Linked DNA regions of Homo sapiens: all the other regions are reported to be linked to region 1. The links are microRNA targets in miRTarBase. Many come from high-throughput screens and were not tested one by one. Region 1 holds a microRNA gene; each other region holds the end of a gene's coding sequence. Distances are from middle to middle.
What was found. Region 1 holds the annotated microRNA hsa-miR-3183 (GCCUCUCUCGGAGUCGCUCGGA, at 2,697-2,718, opposite strand). A microRNA usually pairs through its seed, bases 2 to 8, with sites in the 3' UTR of a target mRNA and lowers its output. Matches are read on the target gene's strand: a 7mer-m8 pairs with bases 2 to 8, a 7mer-A1 pairs with bases 2 to 7 and ends in A, and an 8mer does both.

Region 1 (5,000 bases):
TCCATGGGCCCAGGGGAGCAGGTACTTGGGGGATGTCTGATCACCTGAAGCAGGGAGACAGAGGGAGCTCGTGAAGGGTCAGGCTGGGAAGACCACCAGGGGCACACGAGCACTGGGGCCTCCCCAAGGTGGGCCACAGGCAGGAGACAGAAACAGGCTGCAAAACATCGTGGAGCCAAAAGGCGGACGAACGACTGGGCCAGGGGTCGACGACTGGGCCGTACATGGTCACTGAGAGCAGCTCAACTATTTCCTTCTTTTTTTTTTTTGAGACGGAGTCGCACTCTGTCGCCCAGGCTGGAGTGCAGTGGCGCGATCTCAGCTCACTGCAACCTCCACCTTCGGGTTCGAGCGATTCTCCTGCCTCAGCCTCCCGAGTAGCTGGGGCTACAGGCACGAGCCACCACGCCCGGCTAATTTTTGTATTTTTAGTAGAGACGGGGTTTCACCGTGTTGGCCAGGCTGGTCTCCAACTCCTGACCTCAGGTGATCCACCCGCCTCGGCCTCCCAAAGTGCTGGGATTCCAGGCGTGAGCCCCTGCATCCGGCCGACTGTTTTCTCTTTGTCTGGGCACTTCGCCTGGTCAAATCATGACTGCGCATTCAGGCCTCTCCCAAAGAGAAACGCTGGCGCTGGGGGCTCATGTCCAGGAGACGACCAGGTCCCCTGCGGCGAAAACCCAGCAGGCAGGGGCACCGGGTTGAAATGGGGCTCCGTCACCTCCGAGGGAGCAGGAGTGAAGACCCGAAGGTGAGCGTGGATTCTCTGCCAAGAATCCCGTAGGTGGCTGGTGGAGGTCGCCTCGCCTTTCTGGACCGAAGTGACCTCATGTTTGGGGCAGGAATCAGCAAAGTGGCCCCGCAGCGGGGAGAGGATTTGAGGCTCCAGGGCAGAGGGTGCTCCACGCACACCTGAGCGTCCTCCAGGGCTGAGTTTCAGGAACATCCTGGGGATGCCCCTGAGGGTCTCAGCCCTTCCTCTCGGCTCACCTCTCACCCCCTGGGGCAGGTGACCCCATTTCTCCTGCCTCTGCCCGGAGGGCTGCTCCCGGCCAGCTCCCCGTGCTCGGATTCAGGGGCACGCTCCCTCCGGTCTCCACTCCTGCTCCCTCGGAGGTGGCAGAGCCCCCATTCCAACCCAGTGCTCCTGCCTGCTGGGCCACACTCTCCACTCCAGCACGCAGCTCGCCCCAAGGTCTTCGGAGATGGTTTCCACCACCTCCCCTCCCACAAGCCCTCACCCAGGGCCCTTTAATCCACAGTAAGGGGCCTGTGGTGGCCCTGCCCAAGGCAGGTGGGACTTAGAACTGGCCACTGGGGGTCTCAGTGGAGGGGGGAGCAGAGGTCCCAAGCAGCCTTCAGTGGACGCCACTCAGGACGTGATCCAGGGGCTCACTGGACGACGGGAATCTGAAGACCACATTTGCCAGGGCCCCAAGAGCTCCCAGGCCTCCGCCTCCTTCCTGAAAGCCGCTTCCCTCAGGAGCCCACTCGGTCACTCCCACCGCCCAGGAGCTGACCCCCCGAGGAGCCCTGCCTCCAGGCACAGCCCTGCCCTCGGGGGCCGCCCCATCCTGCCTCTCACGGCTGGCGCTCTTCTACCCTCCACCCTCTGAGCCCCGGCATCCCAGAATGCGGGAGGGTTTCCCTCAGAGGGGGTTGCAGAGGTTCATAAAAAAAAGTGCTTCTTCAGCCAGGTGCGGTGGCTCACGCCTGTCATCCCAGCACTTTGGGAGGCCGAGGCGGGCGGATCACAAGGTCAGGAGATCGAGACCAACCTGACCAACGTGGCGAAACCCCGTCTCTACTAAAAATACAAAAATTAGCCAGGCGTGGTGGCGGGTGCCTGTAATCCCAGCTACTGGGGAGGCTGAGGCAGGAGAATCGCTTGAACCCGGGAGGCGGAGGTTGCAGTGAGCCGGAGTTGAGATTGTGCCACTGCACTCCAGCCTGGCGGCAGAAAAAAAAAAAAAATGCTTCTTCACAACAAAGGTGGTAAATCTGTTCCTGAGAGGTGGGACAGGAACGCTAGAAAATGACTCCCAGCCGGGCGCGGTGGCTCATGCCTGTAATCCCAGCACTCTGGGAGGCAGAGGCGGGCGGATCACTCGAGCTCAGGAGTTCGAGACCAGCCTGGCCAACCTGACGAAACCCCATCTCTACTAAAAATACAAAATTAGCCGGAAATCACTTGAACCCGGGAGGCAGGGGTTGCAGTGAGCCAAGATAGCACCACTGCACTCCAGCCTGGGCAACAGAGCAAGACTCTGTCTCAAAAAAAAAAAAAAAAAAACAGAAAATGACTCCAGAAGGACCTCAGTGCAAGTGGCCCCCGGACAGGGAACCACGTGGAAGGTGGAGCTGTGTGGGCACATTTCACGCCTGCCCTGGAGGGGCCGCGGAGCCCAGGCCCTGAGCCAGGCATCGGGTCTGAGGGTGGGCACGTTTCCTGGGGCTCCCAGGCCAGCGGCCACGGTGGCAGCCCGGGCTGGCTTTCCCCTGCCCTCCCCCAAGGGCAGCCCCACGCTCAGGGCTGGGTCCCCTTGGGACACCGAAGCCGGCCTGTCATTGGGGCAGACCACAGGCGTGAGAGGCACGGCGGGGCTGGCAAGCTGGCAACGGGGGAGACGGGAGTTGCCAAGACCCTGCCTCTCCTCCCTCGAGGAGGCGCCGGAGGATTCCGTCAACGTGACTGCTCCGAGCGACTCCGAGAGAGGCAGGGCAGAGAGGGAGGGGCTGCCAGGACCTACCCCTGGCTTCCAGCTCAGCAGCTGGGTTGGGGACACCGGGCCAGGCTCCATAAACTCTCCACACATCTTCCCATGGCTTGGCATCCACACTGCTAGGCCAGGCAGGCTCCGCCTCTCCAGCCCTCACCCTGCAGGGTCAGCCAGGCTCCCTTGTAGCCAAGGTGTCCTGCAGCCAAGGTGTGCCCACCTGCCATACCCAGGCCAGCCACAGATAGGCTCGGGCTGATGCCGTGTCCCAGGGCCTCGGCTGGCTTCCCCTCCAACACCAGAGAACTTCGAAGTTCCCCAAGCCTCATGGGAGGAAGGGGATTAGCAGCTCTGAACGACGCTTTTGTCCAAGGCAGGCTAGCCTCTTAGCACCCGCAGCAACCTGCCTTCCCCAGCGTCCATTCTAGCACCTCTGCCTGCCCCACGTCCGCTCCAGAGCCTCTGCCGGCCCCACGTCCACTGCAGAGCCTCTGCCTGCCCCACGTCCGCTCCAGCGCCTCTGCCGGCCCCACGTCCACTGCAGAGCCTCTGCCGGCCCCACGTCCACTACAGCGCCTCTGCCGGCCCCACGTCCACTCCAGCGCCTCTGCCGGCCCCACGTCCACTCCAGCGCCTCTGCCGGCCCCACGTCCACTCCAGAGCCTCTGCCTGCCCTGGCACCCACTTTGCTTTTAGCCCCCGGGCTGGGCATGGCTGACCTTGAGGAGAAGCAGACAAAATCCAAACCTGGGCTGCTCTTGGAGGCCCCACAGCCAGGCACATCTCCCCCAGCGGCCTAGGGCTCCGTCTTCCTCAGGGCCAGCCCACCCCACCACTGCCTCCCTGTGCAGGCAGCCTGGAGGCTTCAGCTTCAGCTCAGAACTGGGCTACAAATACCAGCCAGGAAGCCGGCCCTGCCCCAGCCCAGGGCAGGTCGAGGATGCCAGAGTGGCAAGGGCAGGGGCAGTGGGGCCCTCTTGAGAAAAGGAACAGGCCAGGGCCAAAGCAACACGGAGGCCCTGTCCTGAAAGGAAAGGGGCGCCCTCAGAGGTCAAAGTCCAAGATGAGAGGCCTTCTGTGGTCCTGACCAGGAAGCTTCACGCTGGAGGCCACGGGAAGGCCAAGGACCTGTCAGACCTCCATGGGCTCTGAAGCCTCGAGCTGGACCTGGAGTGGTTAAGAAACATTAACAGGGCTGGGCGCGGTGGTTCACACCTGTAATCCCAGCACTGTGGGAGGCCTAGGTGGGAGGATCACCTGAGGTCAGGAGTTCGAGACCAGCCTGGCCAACATGGAGAAACCCTGTCTCTACTAAAAATACAAAAATTACCCCGGCGTGGTGGCACATGCCTGTAAACCCAGCTACTCAGGGGGCTGAGGCAGGAGAACCGCTTGAACCCAGGAGGCGGAGGTTGCGGTGAGCCGAGATTGTGCCATTGTACTCCAGCCTGGGCGACAGAGCGAGACTCCATCTCAAAAAAAAAAAAAAAAAAAAAAAAAGCAGCATCAACAGCCTTCTCTGATACCAGCTTCACCCTCCCTGCCCGGGCCCAGAACACTTTCTGGGCATGGAGCTTGCTGCCGGGGACGTGAGGGGCTCCAGCAATTCCAGGGCCCAGGTCAGCTCTGAGCGGCCCCTCCCAGGCCTTGCCTTGCTCCGAGTCTCACGTTCAGTGGCGTCGTCGAGAAGAACCGTCTTGCCTGTTGCTATGCACAGCGTGCCAGGACGGGCACCACACTGATGCCTGACGGGCAGGAGCCCGGCGTCTCCAGACGCTCCCATCTGGGGCACGCAGCCCAACCCCAACCGGCCACGGAAGGCAGGACACCGCGGGTGAGAGCCTGCGCTGAGGCTGAGTGGCCGGGGTCTGAACGTCGCCCCTCGGCTAAGCCACTCACGTGACTTCATCTGAGTCACTCTCTGAGCCTCATTCCTCATATATAAAAACAGTCTGGGCCAGGCACGGGGGCTCCCGCCTGTAATCCAGCACTGTGGGAGGCGGAGGCAGGTGGATCCACTGAAGCCAGAAGTTCAACATCAGCCTGCGCAACATAACGAAACCTCGTCTTTACAAAAAATACAAAAATTAGCCAGGCATGTTGGTACATGCCTGTAGACCCAGCTACTTGGGAGGCTGAGGTGGGAGGATTGCTTGAGCCTGGGAGATGGAGGCTGCAGTGAGCCGAGATGGTGCCACTGCACTCCAGCCTGGGCGAGAGAGTGAGACTCCCACAAAAAAAAAAAAAAAAAAAATTAAAAATGTAAAACAAAATTCAAAACAC
Region 2 (5,193 bases), not on the chromosome of region 1:
GCCCACTGCTGTCCCCGACCCTGAACCCCAAGGTGTCCTGGGATCGACTGAAGCGGGTATGGAGGCGTCCCAAGACCCCCCTGCGGACCTCCACTGGGGGCATCTCCACTTTGGGGCTTCAGGAGCTGAAGGAACAGGTGAGGACAAGCTCTAAATGCCTGCAGCATGCAGCCACACCTCCCCAGGACTGAATACATCCATTGTTTCTGAACCAGCCTGTGGAGGGGGCCCTGGAGCCTCTGCCCGAGGTGACAAGGAAAGGCTGGCGGTGTGAGCCCTGGGGGCACCACTTGAGCTCTCCCGGTCCCACTCTCTCTTTTCTTTCTCCTGCAGAGTCCCTGCCCGAGCCGGGGCCGAGTGGAGGGTGGGGGGGTCAGCAGTCTGCTCCCCAATCACCACCACCCCCACGGTCCCCCAGGAGGTCTCTTTGAAGATTTTGCTTGCTAGGACGGTGCTGTGACTGAAAGGACCCAGGAGTCTGGGACCCCTCCTGGGATCCCCAGCACATTCTCCTGCTCCTGGGAGAGGCCTGGGGGCGGTGCTCACTGGGAGGGCCAGGACTCAGTTCCTGCTCTCATCCTCCCCTGCCCTGATGTCAGCTGCTTTGCACAAAGGTCCTTCTTGTCCACACCCCTTATCCCCAGGCTGGTGCCCCGGGAGGGCTGGAGACCAGGCCATGGGCCCTCACGGAGAGGAAGGGAAGGAAGGAGAGGGAGGGGGAGGATAGAGCCCATCCCAGCCGGGGAGGGGGAGCCCTCTGTACATTTGTAAATATTTAGGGAAAGCCGGGTGGGGGGAGGGGATACAGATGTAGAAGGTGGGTAGGGCTACAGGGGTGGGTGATTTAGGGACAGCCAGGGTCCCAGCCCCAATGTCAGCAGGATAGGGAGAGCCCCAGGACTCAGGAGTGCTGGGCTGGTCCTACTTCCTGCCCCTCTCCAGGCCCAGCTCCCCTCTTGGCAGGGGGAGAGGATGGCCCAGCAGGCCTGGCCCAGCTCCCAGTTCCCCCTGCACCAGCCCCACCCCTAGAGTCCCTTCTATAGGGAGGGGGCAGGAGACCTTCCAGACTTCGGCTGAGCTTGGAGGGTGGGAAGGGAGCCTTCTCAGTCCTCTCTCCCTCCAGTCTGATTTTATAAAGTGCTGACGAGATTGGGAATAAAGAGGCATAAAGAATTCTCTGTGTGTATGTGTGACCAAGCACGCACTGGGGGCCGGGGTGAGGCTGGGCACATGCATGACTTGGTCCCGGGTGAAAGGAAAGGCAGGCCCCAGCAGGGGCAGGGGAGCCTGTGGTGCTCAGCCAGTCCTCCCTCCCCCACGCCTGCCTACCTTTTCAAAACCTCTGAATCACAAGTCCACACTTGGCCAGTTTATTAAAGGCAGGGAGCTTCGGCAGGGTCCAAAAGGGAGAAGTTGGGAGATGCCCCCTCCTCAGCTCCCTCCTTCCCCAACAACTCTTCTACAGCCCAGCCCCCAGGGCCCAGAGGCAGGGCTGGCGTCAGGCAGACTGTACTGCATAAATACGTGGAGGCCACAGCCCGAATCAGCAGCGTCAGGGGGCAGGGAAACTGGGTTTGGGATGAGAAGTGGGTGGCTCTGGGGGCACGTCCCCCAGTGCTTGTCCAGAGCCCAGGGACCCACAGAGCCAGAGAGGGGACCAGTGGGCCAGCTTGGGGTCTGGCTACGGCCAGCCCTGCCCAGCGAGGCTGGCAGGTGGCTCTGGTTTTGGGGGAGAAGTGGGGTGGGGTGTGGCCATGCCACGGCCCACGGGGACAGGGTGGGGTCAGGTGCTGTTGCCCTGCTCCTGTTCAAAGAGTAGCATGGCCAGCTGGGTTCGGGAGCCGAGGCCCTCAAGCACGCTCTGGAGGCAGCGGTGGTACAGGTCCTCACTGAGCCTCGCGCTGCACGTCTGGGCCCGGTAGCGCTGCAGCAGCGCCGGCTCCACCGCCCGCAGCACATGCAGACTGGAGAAGTGGAGGAACAGCTCGTACACATCCAGGCTCTCCAGCAGCTCCTCTTCTTGTTCTGAGGCTGCCGCCAGGCGCCCACGGGCTGCCACATAGTCGGAGTTGTAGAAGCAGGCCTCGCTGGCTGCCTGGCGATCAAAGCGGCCAGTGTCACGGCCCAGCTCTGGGGGCCCAGGCCCTTGTGGTGGGGCCACAGCTGGGTGGAAGGCTTGGAAATGCATGGGAAAGAAGGCCTGCCAGCCGGAGATGGCATGCATGCGGCAGCGGTTCAGGAAGTCAGGCGTGAGCACCGTGTCTGGCCCGGCCAGCAGGAACAGTGTGTCCAGCGGGTGCTTCTTGGAGAGTAGATCCATGAGGCGCAGTGGTGAGGGTGCGGCTGTCTGCACACTGAGCCATGGCACCCGGGCACCGGGGAAACGCCGCTCCAGCTCTGCCACGTGGGCCTTGACAGGTGCGAAGACATCTGCATGGGCCACGCGCTGGGCCTGGCGCGGCTCATACAGTAGCAGCAGGGTCAGGGCTGCCGCAGCATCACCAGGCTCCAGTGCTGCAGTGGCAAAGGCCTCCAAGAAGCCAGGGGCCAGGTCACGCTCAGCCGCAGCTAGAGGCAGCAGCACAGTGAGACGTGAGGCCTCAGTGACATAGGGCACAGGCAAGATCTCCACGCGGCTCAGCGGCCGGAGCAGCTGCACTCGGCGAGTGAGGGGCCGGCGGCCTCCCTGGGGGGTCAGTGCCTCCAGCTGCAAGTCCAGCGTGTATTCCATACCCCGGGCCGGATCAAAGCGTCGGTAGCCATTCACCAGCTGCTGCTTCTGGAGCCGCAAGGCCGGGTGGTAGCGGCGGTTCAGCTCCTCTAGAGCTGTCCCCAGAACATCGGCCACATCAGCCCGGTCAGCCCCACGCAGTGGGCAGCGGGGTGAGCCATCGGCGCAGGAGAAAGCGTGCTGCTCCGTGAAGTAGTCCCAGCGCAGCACCTCAAAGCGGGAGGCCGGGCGGGATGGTGCTGGAATACCCACGGGCCAAGCAGCTGCCTGGTCCCCATCAACGGCCAGATGGCTGGTATTCTGGATCTCCCACTGGATCAGAGAAACAGGCCATCAGCAAGGGACAGATTACAGGGAGCAGCACACAGCTGGGGGACTGGGTAGGCAGTAGGTGCCACTCAGGATGGGCCCCTCATCCCCTGCCAACCTCTGCCCATACCTATCATTTCCCCAGCATAGACAGCCAAGAGGCTCATCAGAGAATGTAGAAACAGGCAGGGGCTGGGAAGTAGTTTTGTTCTGTGATTCTAGTGCTAACTTGTCATTTCTCTGGGCTCTCTGTGACTTCTCAGATCCTGTCCCCGTCACTCTGCCACCCCCAGACCTAGACCATACCTGTAACTCCTGGATCTCCTGGTACGTGCGTTCCAGTTCAGCTCGGGCGAAAGCTTTGTGCAGCTGGTACATGTGCACAGGGTCACGCACAGGGTGGGCTGTCAGGGCACTTCGGAAATGAGGGTCCCCCTCCTGCACTGGCTCCCCAGGGCTCAGCTCCAGATGGCTATAGTGCACCCCCTGGGGAGAGGAAGGGAAGGGATCTGTGATGAGCTGGCATTGTCTTCCGTTGTCTCATAGTAAGTGTCTCATCTCCTCAGCCTATGACCTGTTGTGGACTTGCAGTCTGAGGGTTTAAGTCTACCTTGACCAGTTGTGAGTCTGTGTGACCTTCAGCATGCCTCCGCTAGCTCATCTGCGAAATGGGCATGCGTCCTGTCTCAGAGCTGTCCAAGGGCTAAAATAATAACTAACATCAAATGCCTATTATGTACAAGGCTCCCTGATTTTTTCTAATCCTTGTAACAACCCCGAGCAATAATTATTTCCATTGGCACAAAGGAAGATACTGAAGCCCAGGATATTTAGTAATTTACTGGGGGTCACAGAGATAGAAAATAAATGTCCGAATTGGCATGGAAAAGCAGACCTGTATCTCCAACATCCCTTTGCCTCTCAGAGGGATTTGAACATGACAAGGAGGTATCAGTGGGATAGCTTATCATCCCACCTCGTGGTCACCAGTGCAGCCCACCCCGGTGGCATCGAGAATGCAGCGACCCAGCCACTCGTCAGGGCGCGCACTGACGATGTCGTTGCGGCAGCCTTCCAGGTGGGGGCGCAGTTGTTGCAGCAGCATGCGCGACAGCAGCACCCCAAAGCCTCCGTGGCAGTAGCGGCCGGGGGTGGGCTCTCCGCCGATGAAGTCCTGGGGCCGGCCCAGGTACAGGTGGGCGGCGGAGGCCAGGCTGAGGTGGCCAGTTAGGCGTGCCAGGCCGTGCGCCTCGGTGTAGGTGGTGTCAGGCACCAGGAAGAACCAGTCAAAGTCGTCGCCGTGCTGCTCCAGCAGGTGGCGCAGCGCCAGGTGCAGGTGTCCAATGGGTCGCTCCTCGCCTAGCGTCACCACTGCCATGCCAGGTGGGGCCCGGCGGCCCCGTGCGCCCGTCAGGAACACCACACGCTCCAGCCGGTGCCCCAGCGTGCGGTTCACGGCCACGCCCAGCGTGGGCAGCGTGGTCTGAGAGGTCAGCACCGCCACCAGCAGCCTCTGCCTGATGCCCAGCTCCGTGCTGATGTAGCGGGTCCTAGGGGAGGAGATGGCACAAGCTTATCAAAAGGACAACGGGGCGGGGGGTGGGGGGGAGGTGGTCAGCACAGACCCTGGCAGGTCACGTCTTCTCTGTATCTGTTCTCTCACCTATGAATAGGTTAAAAATAAACCCTCTCTCCCAGGGGTCATGAGGATTTAAACGAAATGGTCTTAAACAGGTAGTGCTTTGCATTTGGGAGATGGCAATACCCACCCAGATAGGAGAGAGATATTGTGGGTCTGACTCCGGGGTTCGCTACTTAGTAGTTATGTCCTTGAGCATGTTATTTAACCTGAGCCATCTGTAAAATGGGACTGATTATATCTGTTTAAAGCACCCAGCCAAACGCTGGACACACCATGTATCTACTCATTTCTATATAAATATGCCATTATGCCACAAATGCCTCACATAAATGACATAAAGGAACGTTTGGCATAGGGGTGTACTGAGTGTTTTTGCGGGGAGGGGCAAACTGCACTCAGGGGCTCTAGGAACTTACCTTTTGGTAAGGCAGAAGGTAAATTGCAGAACCAGCATTTGAACCCAATGTTACTTAGAAGTTATTTCAACTCATCAGCAGAGACATTAATGAGA
Region 3 (5,193 bases), 15 Mb from region 1:
CCATACTGGAGAGAAACCCTATACCTGCAATGAATGTGGGAAATCTTTTAGCCACAGAGCTAATTTAACTAAACACCAGAGAACTCATACTAGAATTCTCTTTGAATGCAGTGAATGCAAGAAAACCTTCACAGAAAGCTCATCCCTTGCAACACATCAGAGAATTCACGTTGGAGAGAGACCTTATGAATGCAATGAATGTGGGAAAGGTTTTAATCGAAGTACACATCTTGTGCAGCATCAGTTGATTCATACTGGAGTGAAGCCTTATGAATGTAATGAATGTGATAAAGCTTTTATTCATTCATCAGCACTCATTAAACATCAAAGAACTCATACTGGAGAGAAACCTTATAAATGTCAAGAATGTGGGAAAGCCTTTAGCCATTGCTCATCCCTAACTAAGCATCAGAGAGTTCATACTGGAGAAAAGCCATATGAATGCAGTGAATGTGGAAAAACTTTTAGTCAGAGCACACATCTTGTTCAACATCAGAGAATTCACACTGGAGAGAAACCCTATGAGTGTAATGAATGTGGGAAAACCTTCAGCCGGAGCTCCAATTTTGCTAAACATCAAAGAATTCATATTGGAAAGAAACCGTACAAATGTAGCGAGTGTGGAAAAGCCTTCATTCATTCATCAGCTCTCATTCAACATCAGAGAACTCATACCGGAGAGAAACCCTTTAGATGTAATGAGTGTGGGAAAAGCTTTAAGTGCAGTTCATCTCTCATCAGACATCAAAGAGTTCACACTGAAGAGCAACCCTGAAAAATTACTGAATGTGAAGAAATGTAAGTTGGTTTTATCACTGTATTAAATACTTGAGTGTTTAGGTGGAAGGCGCATCCATAATATGCATGTGAGGACCAATTCTGTATGCATCTAATTTCATTTGCGTAATACATAGTTTTGAGCCATAAGCAGGTTCTTTATGTCCGTTAATTTGATAATTATGAAATCTAGCCAGCGATTTCAAAATTTTAATCTCCAACGTCCCAAATAGCTATCTGTGGAAATTCAAGAAGTCCCTGAGAGTAGGTAGCAGTACGAACATTGTGAAATCCAGTTTTCCCCTCTCTTGTTTATGTCAGAGCTTTGTTGTAAGCCTCTCACTTTGTAAGGAAATTCTTATTGGGTAGGTTAGGCTGAGGGCTTACATCCTTATCATCAGGAAGACACAATGTTGTTATTTATTACTCCTTGAGATCTAGATACACATATGGTATAATTCATCTAGAGTGTAATTTCTTTTATATTAGCCTTAAAAACCAAAAATGCTGGGTTCAAAGTCCTTAGAATTCCCTTCCTCCCTCAACAAGCTGCTGTCTATGTTGATGACCATAACTGGGATGTATAATATTTACAGACAACTCTAAGTTACGTTCACATGGATTATGTACATCATTGATTTTTTTTTTTTTTTTTTTTTGAGACAGAGTCTTGCTCTGTTGCCCGGGCTGGAGTGCAGTGGCGCGATCTCGGCTCACTGCAACCTCCACCTCCCAGGTTCATGCCATTCTCTTGTCTCAGCCTCCCAAGTAGCTGGGACTACAGGCACCTGCCAGTACGCCTGGCTAATTTTTTTTGTATTTTTAGTAGAGATGGGGTTTCACCATGTTAGCCAGGATGGTCTTGATCTCCTGACCTCGTGATCTGCCTGCCTCGGCCTCCCAAAGTGCTGGGATTACAGGCATGAGCCACCATGCCTGGCATCATCATTGATTTATGTCATTGTTATCCCTCTACCGCGGAGACCTTCTTTCATTTTCCATTTCCCTGGGAGTTCACGTGAAGTAGTGAATGGGTCAAAATCTTAACAGTGGTTGTTGATCAAGTCCTTCCTTTCTTATCCTTGGCACTGAATAAATCTTTGGTTTTCCATAATCAAAGGGTGAGGGAGACTTCTTTTGTCTACATTATTCAGCTTTCTGAAAGCTATGCTGTGTCCATTTGAGAAAAAGCCCCAGGGATATTGAAGGTCTGAGAAGTTGAGTGGTTCAGTGTGTTATTATATTTAGGGTCCCAGTAAAGAAGAACTGAAGCAACTGTGAGACACCAGGGCATACTTCCCTGTATGAGTGGAAAACAAGGCACGGAAAATAGCTCACAGGATAGTCCTCAACTGACTTGCTTGAGGATAAGCAGCTTCCCTTCGTGAAGAAGTTGCCATTTCTCTGGCCTTCATATTTATCTACTTTTTGTTATTGTTGTCTGTATCGGTTCAATCTCACACTGCTATAAAGAAATGCCTGAGACTGGGTAACTTATAAAGAAAAAAGGTTTAATTGGCTCATGGTTCCATGGGCTGTACAGGAAGTATGACTGGGGAGGTCTCAGGGAGCTTTTACTCATGGCAAAAGGCAAAGCCAGAGCAGGTATCTTCACAGGGCTAGAGCAAGAGGAAAAGAGAGAGGGGAGGTGCTACACACTTTTTATGCAACCAAATCTCATGAGAACTCTATCACGAGACAGCAGTAGGGGGACAGTGCTAAATCATTCATGAGAAACTACCTGCGTGGTCCAGTCACCTTGCACCAGGCCCCACCTCCCACATTGGGGATTACAATTAAACATGAGATTTGGGTGGGGATACAGATCTAAACTGTATCATTACTCAAAAAAAAAAAAAAAAAGAAAGAAAAGAAAACACAGGAAAAGGAACTCACCTCTTTTATCATCTTAGTATTTAGTACTAATGGTTTAGAGCAGGAATTGACAAACTGTGGCCTGGACTCATGGACCAACTCTGGCCCACCACCTGTTTCTCAGAAGAAAATTTTATTGGAACTCAGCCACACTTACTCATTTACATGTTGTCCTTGACTGCCTTTGTGTCCAGTGTCAGAACTGAGTAGCTGCAGCGGAGGTTGTGCCTCTGGGCTTTAATATCACAAACAGAGCAGCTTATAAGCAACAGAAACTTACTTCTCACAGTTTTGGAGGCTGGGAAGTCCAAGATCAAGGTGTCAACATATTTAGGGTCTAGGGAAGGTCTGCTTCTTGGTTAATAGAAAGCACCTTTCACTGTGTCTTCACATGGTAGAAGGGGAGAGCTCTGGTATCTTCAGCCCCTTATAAGGGCACTAATCCCATTCATGAGAGCTCCACCCTCACGACCTAATCACCTCCAAAAGGCCCCATTTCGTAATACCGTCAGTTAAGTTTCATTATATGACTTTGATGGGGATATAGCCCATAGTAGGTTGTATGTCCCTGAAAGCCTAAAATATTTACTGTTTGGCTCTTTACAGAAAATATTTTCTTGGCCCCTGTTCCAGAGCATTCATCAAGTCAGATAAAGGGTTTAAACCAGTCAGAGAAACTAGGTGGAATGGAAAAGTACTGAGAGATAATTGGGGACAGAAAAATAAAAGAGATGGGAAATGCTGCATCAAAATACTCCTACCTCTAGGATGTTACTATATATTGTTAGGAGAATTCAAGTTATTGAAACTTGCCAAATTCTTGAGTGAAGAGGAATTCATTTGAGAGCCAAAATTTGACTAAGGAAAGAAGACCAACATGGGCTTTCCAAAGTTGAGTTTGAATTCTGCCATCCCCACTAAGCAGTCATGTGACCTTGGAAAAACTCCCTACTCTGAGTCTCAGTTTCTTTATCTGTATTAGGTTTCAACAAAGGGAATAAATCATTGGCTTCTCATGAGGTTGTCATAAGGATTAAATAAGACAATGCATATAAAAGAACTGGCAGACAATAAATATAGAGTCCCCCACTCCTGCTTGGTGCTCTCTTTCTCTCTCCTTCTCTACATAGAGAAGTGCCAGAGCATCCGTCAGTAGAAGTTACTTAAGGTTGGCTGTGTCTTCCACATCTTTTGTTTACCCATGAAGAACTGTGACCATCTTGTTCTGTGTCTTGTCATAAAGATGGGACGTGACTTCTTTCTGCTCTTGCTTCCATCTGGTGCTGTTTTCTGCACAGCCTCCTTGAGACCTTCCAGAACCTTCTTTTTTCCTACTTCATATCACTTAACCAGTAGCTATCTGGGATGGTTCCAGAGGCTGAAGTTTGCAGTTGAATAACATTTTAAATAGTGTTAAGCGACTTGGGATCTCTGGCCCTTTGCGTTTCAGTATTTGTCCTTTTTATGCCTGATGTTTAACCTGCCACATGTTTGTACTGCAACATGAATCTTGGAAATTTTAATGTTATGCATTTCAAATGTTTTTGGTTATCTGTAAACTAAATGTGCCCTTATTGGCTCACTTGTCAATAAAGATGTTTGTATATGTATTGTCAGAAACTTTTGTAAATTGCTTTTAAATTCTTCCTTTTTTAAAGCATATTTTAAGATGTAATGAAGGACCAACCAAAAAATATCTCCATATCATTCAGGATACCAATCCCATTTCTAGCTGGTCATCTGGCTTCACAACTTCTGGAGAGATGGGATGGGAGATACCGTCAGCAACCCAAGTATCTGCAAGAAGGTTAAGGAGTAGAGGAAGATAGTTTCTAACAAGTAGTACTGAGTCCCCAGGCCAGGTATAGGCACTACTCAGTAGGGCTAATTGGGGTGAAAGGGAGGGAATAACTTCGTATAAAAAGCACAGTTAAAATTAGGCAAAATGGGCCAGGTGCGGTGGTTCAAGCCTGTAATCCCAGCACTTTGGGAGGCTGAGGGAGGCAGATCACCTGAGGTCAGGAGCTCGAGACCAGCCTGACCAACATGGAGAAACCCCATCTCTACTAAAAATACAAAATTAGCCAGGCATGGTGACACATGGCTGTAATCCCAGCTACTCGGGAGGCTGAGTCAGGAGAATCACTTGAACCCGGGAGGCAGAGGTTGCAGTGAGCCAAGATAGTGCCATTGCACTCCAGCCTGGACAACAAGAGCGAAACTCCATCTCAAAAAAAAAAAAAAAAAAAATTAGGTAAAATGTCATAAAAATCTTATTTTGTGTAACTTTTCAATTATATCTGGTTTGGGGGAAGACAATGTAATATCACCCAAAAGTATAAAAGTGATAATGTAAGAATACTAAATATTCAAATTGATTGGCAATTAACTAGATCAATTATCTATTGAAAATTTGTCATAGTTTTTATTTTCTTAGATGTGTTCTCACTTTTAAAAATATGTGTTTATCGGTTGGGCGCGGTGGCTCACGCCTGTAATCCCAGCACTTTGGGAGGCTGAGGCGGGTGGATCATGAGGTCA
Region 4 (5,193 bases), not on the chromosome of region 1:
TGGTGAAAAGGTGAATGGATGAATGTGTCACAGGAGCATCTGTCCTTGGGCCACCTGATGCAGTGCCAAAGAGTATAGACCTGACCATGAGGAGGCCTGGCTTTATGTCCCTTATCTGCTAGGGTTTACTATATTATCTTGGGTGAGTAACTACCTCTTTCACATCCTCAGTTGCTAGAAAAGCAAAATAAGTGAAAAGAATTTTTTTCAAAATGCAAATTTCTTGGAGCTCGAAGGTTTGAGAATGGCAGGTTGGGGACTTCAGGGCTTCTCCTGCTGCCCACAACATAGCTCTGTGACTTTGCACTGGCCGCCTCACCTCTCTGAGCCTCAGCTGCTGTTCTGTGAAGTAAGTGAGGAAGGCAAAAGGGAGGTGATGGCAGGAACCCCCAGAACTGAGCCACACACTCTTGCTTCAGTCTCTTTATTCGAGAGAAACTTTGTCCTCAAAGGGAAGAAGTAAGAAGACCCCCTGCTGAATTATTTCACAGTAGAAATAGTAGATTCCTCTCTGGTCCTAGATACCACCCCCAGCAGCAATTTTCCAAACCCAGGATTTGGTAACCTTGGGCCTAGGGCATCCCAGCCCCAACAAGAGCATAACATGTTAGGGAGGAACGAGAGAGGGAGGCAGGGCAGGAGTTGAGGAATCACCGACCACTTTCATCCAAACCAGACACCACCTCGTTTTGCAGAGTCCTCAGGGGAAGCTCTCAAAACCTCAGTTCCCTCATCTGTGAAATGGGAGACATCTGGGCAAGATGAGTTTGAAGGTCCCTTATGGTTTTCACGATTGGATTCTATCTTCTCCCACCCATCCAGGCTCCCAACCCCACCAGAGCTGACTCTGGGGTCGAATTTGAGCCAATCCCCTCCCTTTGTCAGTGCCCAGTTTCCTCACCCCTTCTGAACCTTGCTGCCAGAATCTCTGTGCCTCTTCTCTGGAGAAGGACCCAGGAACCTGCAGGGCTCTGTGCGCTCTGGGAATTATCTAAGGCTGGCAAAGGCATCCCGGTGCTTGAGGCCCTTCGTGTTCTTGCTCTTCCCTTCTCCCTGTCCTTGCTGGCTCAAGGGTCAGCTGGAGATGGTTCTGAAATCAAATTCCTCCCACTCTTTGGACTTCCATTCCTCTCCCCTTCTCTCTTCTTTCTTTCTTCCTTGTCTTTTCCTTCTTCTTCTCCCCACCCTCTCCTTCCAAGGGCTGAAGAAGTTGGGCATTCAGGCAGCTGACCTGATTCAAAGCCCAGCTCCATACCTCACTAGCTGTGCAACTCTGAACTAGTGAAGTCTGTTCTTGAAACAGAAACTCACTTTCTGCACCCCCCCCCCACCTTGCTATGATGGTCCCCTTCTGCCAGGGCCAATTTGAGGTTTCAGTGTTTGTGCCTGAACCATCGTAGGTGCTTCATGAATGCCAGATCCCTTTCCTTCATCATCATGCTCTGGGACCTTTCTGTCCCCTCTCCTGTCCCTCCCCTATCCTCAAACACCATCTTCTTTTCTTTTCCCTCTACCTCTTGTCCTCACGATCCCTCAGCTCCCCCACCCCACCCAGGAGGCAGGGCTAAGTAAGGCCCCATCACTGAGTCCTGGGCCCAGAGAGAAGGCTCTGGGCACTAAGTATGTTGGTTGCCTGTGCAGCAGTGCAGGTGAGCACACTTTGCACACTGCAGGGACGATATATGCATGACCCATGGAGATGTTCACATGAAGCTGTGGGGACAAGACTGTATGGGATGTTAAGGCTGCATTTAAGTACTTGACAGGAACCTAAGTCAGAACAGGAAGACCCACAGAGCAGCCAGAAAGAGGGAGGCCAGACTCTAAGGAGGAAAACAGCCGGTTTGAATTGTGCTCCTGTTTATCAGCTTTTCCAATGACAACATGAATTCCTGGCTCCCCCATCCTGGCCTGGACTGCCAGAAGCCCAGGAAAAGCAGCATCCTACAAGCCAGGAGGGCCAAGGCGCTGACGACTGCTGCTGTGACCCGGGACAGGTCCCATCCCATCTCGTGCCTCAGTAAATGTGGGAAGAGGGGAGATGGGGGCCACTGAGCAATATTTAAAGCTCCCTTTTTGCTCTCAAACCGTCTATATTCAAACTCTTTAAAGCATTCAGAGGCTCCAGCTTGGGATCAATTCAGAGCTGCCTTGTCATAAGCATTAAGGCACAATAAGGGAAGGAACAGTTTGTCTCTTAATGAAGTGTGATTCCAAACAGCCCATGGCCTCGGGAACTCGCCCAGCGCGGGGTAGACATTGCATCTGTTCATTGCATCTTGTTGGAGAATCAGCTTAACAATGAAGGGACTTGGAAGAGAACAGAATGTGGACACTTAGGAGCCAAAGGGCCTCAGGCCCACAAGGGACTGCCTCCTGCCAGCTTTCCCTCCCCATTGCCTTGATCTCTGGAGACATAGGAGGTGGGAGCCACGGTAGGAGGCTGTTAATGGCTGTTGAGGGAGCTGGAAGCCAAGTGCATTTTCTCTGCCATGTTGCATCATTTTTGAAAACTATTTGCAAAGTTTCTTAAAGGCCATTAAGATGTTCATCCTCATTTGCAGAAAAATCAATATTTATGGCAAAAATCTCCAAACTTTTTAAGTCCTTCCCAACTCTGCAGCCTCATTTGAGCCAGGCAAACTGAAGTTCAAATCCAAGCTCCGGCAGAGACTAGCTGGGTACCTTTGGGCAAGTTACTTAACCTCTCTAAGCCTCAGATTCCTCCTATGTAAAAGGGAAGTTATAACCATACCTAACTCAGGGTTGCTGTAATGATTAAATGAGAAAACATATGTAAAGTGCATAATATAAAAAGTGCTAAATAAATGTAGGCTATCAATATACTAGAATAATCTCCACAGATAAATTCCAAATAGAAGAACAGAGTTTCTGGAGCCAGACGGAGCCAGGTTCAGATCTTAACTCTGCCACTGATTAGCTGTGTGATGCTGGGCAAGTTACTTTCCCCATCTGGGCCTCAGCTATGTCATTTGTAAATGGGGCTATGACACTCTGTGGCCACAGGGACGTGTCAGTATTAGATGAGAAAAGCCATGCCAGGCACCTGTATCCAGGAGGTATTTGGTGTCTGCAGCTCAGAAACACAGTTCAAGGAGTCCAGCTCCAGACTCTGTCTCAAGTGACTGAGTCCTCGGACATACTCTTCTTCCCAGGGGACTCTCCGGAGTTGCTTCCCAAAGCTGCATTTTGGACCTGTCTCCAAAGGCGTTGAGGAAATTAACCAGAATGAGAAGCCCCACCACCAGTGTTTTATTCTAAGCACCTCCAGCCAGAGCTGAGTGGATTAGGAAAGGCAGAAAAAAATCCCTGTGATGGGGTGAGGGCTGCTGGTGAAGATGCCTGCCACAACCCCACCCCCAGGTAAGAGGGGCAAGGTGAGATCAGGGGCTGGCACCACCCTGACGCCCCAAATAGCTCCAGCCTAAAGCACCATCAGCCTGCGATGTTCTAGGGTGAGCTGCTCCATGCCTGCATCCTTTAAAGGTTCTTTTCTCCTTTCTCATTTCTTTGCCAAATCTCAAGTCCTCGTTGCATCCCTCACTTGTCTTGCCCTTGCAAAGAGCCCACAGGACCTCTCAGGACCAGTTCTCTGTCTTCCTAGCTGATCCGAAAGCCAAATTCATGGCCTATGGAGTTCATGGGCTGATATGTCACCTTCCTCTCCCAGATCACCTATGCATTTCCACATACTTTAACACAGAGCAGTGACTTGAAGGTAGGGTTTTCTGGCCAGCTACTGATAATATATATACAAGGGCCAAGTGTGATCTGCATCACACTGGGTTTGCTCTGACCCCCTCACTGCTCACACCAGGAATGGACCTTGGAGAGTGTCATTTCTGGGGCACACACAATAGGCAGCTTAATCCCACCGCCCTATGCCAATCCCAGTTCATGGCAATGCTTTTGAGAATTCTTCCTTTTTTGCTTTGAGTCAGTCAAGGCTGGCCTCCCAAGAAGCATAAATTGCTAGTCCAAGGCTGTATGGAACACAGCATGTTCTGTCCACTAGAAGAAAGGGGTTCCAGGCCCTAGATTCCCAGCATAAAACACTGTTCATCCCATGCAAAATGCAGTGAAAATTGGTGGATGCTAAAGAGGTTCTTGCCTTGATCTTCAGAAGACATATCCTTGGGTGTCCCTGGGTTGAGAGAGTCCATTGAGGGGTTCCACAGTGAGGATCAAAGCATGCCGGTCTCCCTCTCATTCATAGAAGTCCTCTCATTCATTGATGACATCTTGGTAAAGCTTCTATGGCTGGGGTAGGAAGAGTGGCCTGTATCTTCACTTAGAGCATTGACCAGGCGAGAGAAGAGGGCCACCTTGAACTTCTTGAAGTCCTGACCCATGAAAACATACAGAATGGGGTTCATGCAGCTGTTGGCAATGGCAAGGGCAGTGGCCAGGGGCAAACCCAGGCTGAAGACAGAGCCAGGCATGGCAGTGTGGTGGAGCTCTAGGAGGTTGAGTGTGTGGTAGGGGCACCAGCAGAGGAAGAAGGTAATGATGATGGTCACAATAATCTTGAAGGGCTTCTTGGTCTTGGCCAGGCGGTTGCGCTGCAGTTTGCACACGATGGTGAGGTAGCAAGCTGTGATGATGAGGACTGGGACCAGGAAGCCACAGAGGAAGCGGGTGACAGTCACCACCATGTGCCGGCTATACCCCACAGGGTCCATTTGGGAGTGAGTGGGCCACGAGGAAGACCCAGGTGTGGACAGGCTGAAGTTGTTGAAGCAGGATATTTTCCCATGCAGGTTGGCTGTGTCCCGGAAGACGAGAGATGGGGAACTCAAGAAGAAAGCCAGGACCCAGATGACCATGCAGGCCATGTAAGCCAGGCGAACGCTGCGGTGGTTCTGGGACCAGACAGGGAGGAGCACAGAGATGCAGCGGTCAGAGCTGATGATGGTCAGCAGGAAGACGCTGGTGAACATGTTGTGGATGAGAAGGAAGTTGCTGATCTTGCACATGGCTGTCCCGAAAACCCAGTGGTAGTCCATGGCGGCATAGGTGATATGGATTGGGAGGAAGACGTTGAACAGGAAATCTGCCACTGCCAGGTTGAGGAACCAGACCATGTTCACTGTCTTCTTCATCTTGAAGGTGGCAATGATGATCACCAGACCATTGCCCAGAATCCCGAGGAAGCAGACGATGCTGTAGACC

Region 2: the mRNA of ASIC4 is a reported target of hsa-miR-3183. Seed matches in the 3' UTR shown: 7mer-A1 at 690-696 and 7mer-A1 at 967-973.
Region 3: the mRNA of ZNF286A is a reported target of hsa-miR-3183. Seed matches in the 3' UTR shown: 7mer-m8 at 2,415-2,421.
Region 4: miRTarBase lists CMKLR1 as a target of hsa-miR-3183. Seed matches in the 3' UTR shown: 7mer-A1 at 3,681-3,687, 7mer-m8 at 2,705-2,711, 7mer-A1 at 1,127-1,133 and 8mer at 506-513.

The regions. Positions count from the first base shown.
Region 1 is chr17:1,019,833-1,024,832 of GRCh38, forward strand. MIR3183 (microRNA 3183) reads right to left here and starts at 2,727; the gene lies at 2,644-2,727. The region is part of intron 16 of ABR (ABR activator of RhoGEF and GTPase); the gene reads right to left.
Region 2 is chr2:219,537,600-219,542,792 of GRCh38, forward strand. ASIC4 (acid sensing ion channel subunit family member 4) reads left to right here. Exons shown (of 10, transcript NM_018674.6): 9 at 33-137; 10 at 334-1,173. The coding sequence ends at 447. CHPF (chondroitin polymerizing factor) reads right to left here. Exons shown (of 4, transcript NM_024536.6): 2 at 4,017-4,590; 3 at 3,347-3,526; 4 at 1,355-3,043. The coding sequence ends at 1,784. Among named protein-coding and RNA genes, the nearest start is that of CHPF, 3.6 kb to the right of the region's middle. RefSeq lists enhancers at 65-619, 620-1,175.
Region 3 is chr17:15,716,516-15,721,708 of GRCh38, forward strand. It overlaps ZNF286A (zinc finger protein 286A), which reads left to right. Exons shown (of 6, transcript NM_001130842.2): 6 at 1-4,272. The coding sequence ends at 775. It overlaps ZNF286A-TBC1D26 (ZNF286A-TBC1D26 readthrough (NMD candidate)), which reads left to right. Exons shown (of 23, transcript NR_171000.1): 6 at 1-798. Among named protein-coding and RNA genes, the nearest start is that of TBC1D26, 13 kb to the right of the region's middle.
Region 4 is chr12:108,287,636-108,292,828 of GRCh38, forward strand. CMKLR1 (chemerin chemokine-like receptor 1) reads right to left here. Exons shown (of 4, transcript NM_001142343.2): 4 at 411-5,193. The coding sequence ends at 4,206. Among named protein-coding and RNA genes, the nearest start is that of CMKLR1, 49 kb to the right of the region's middle.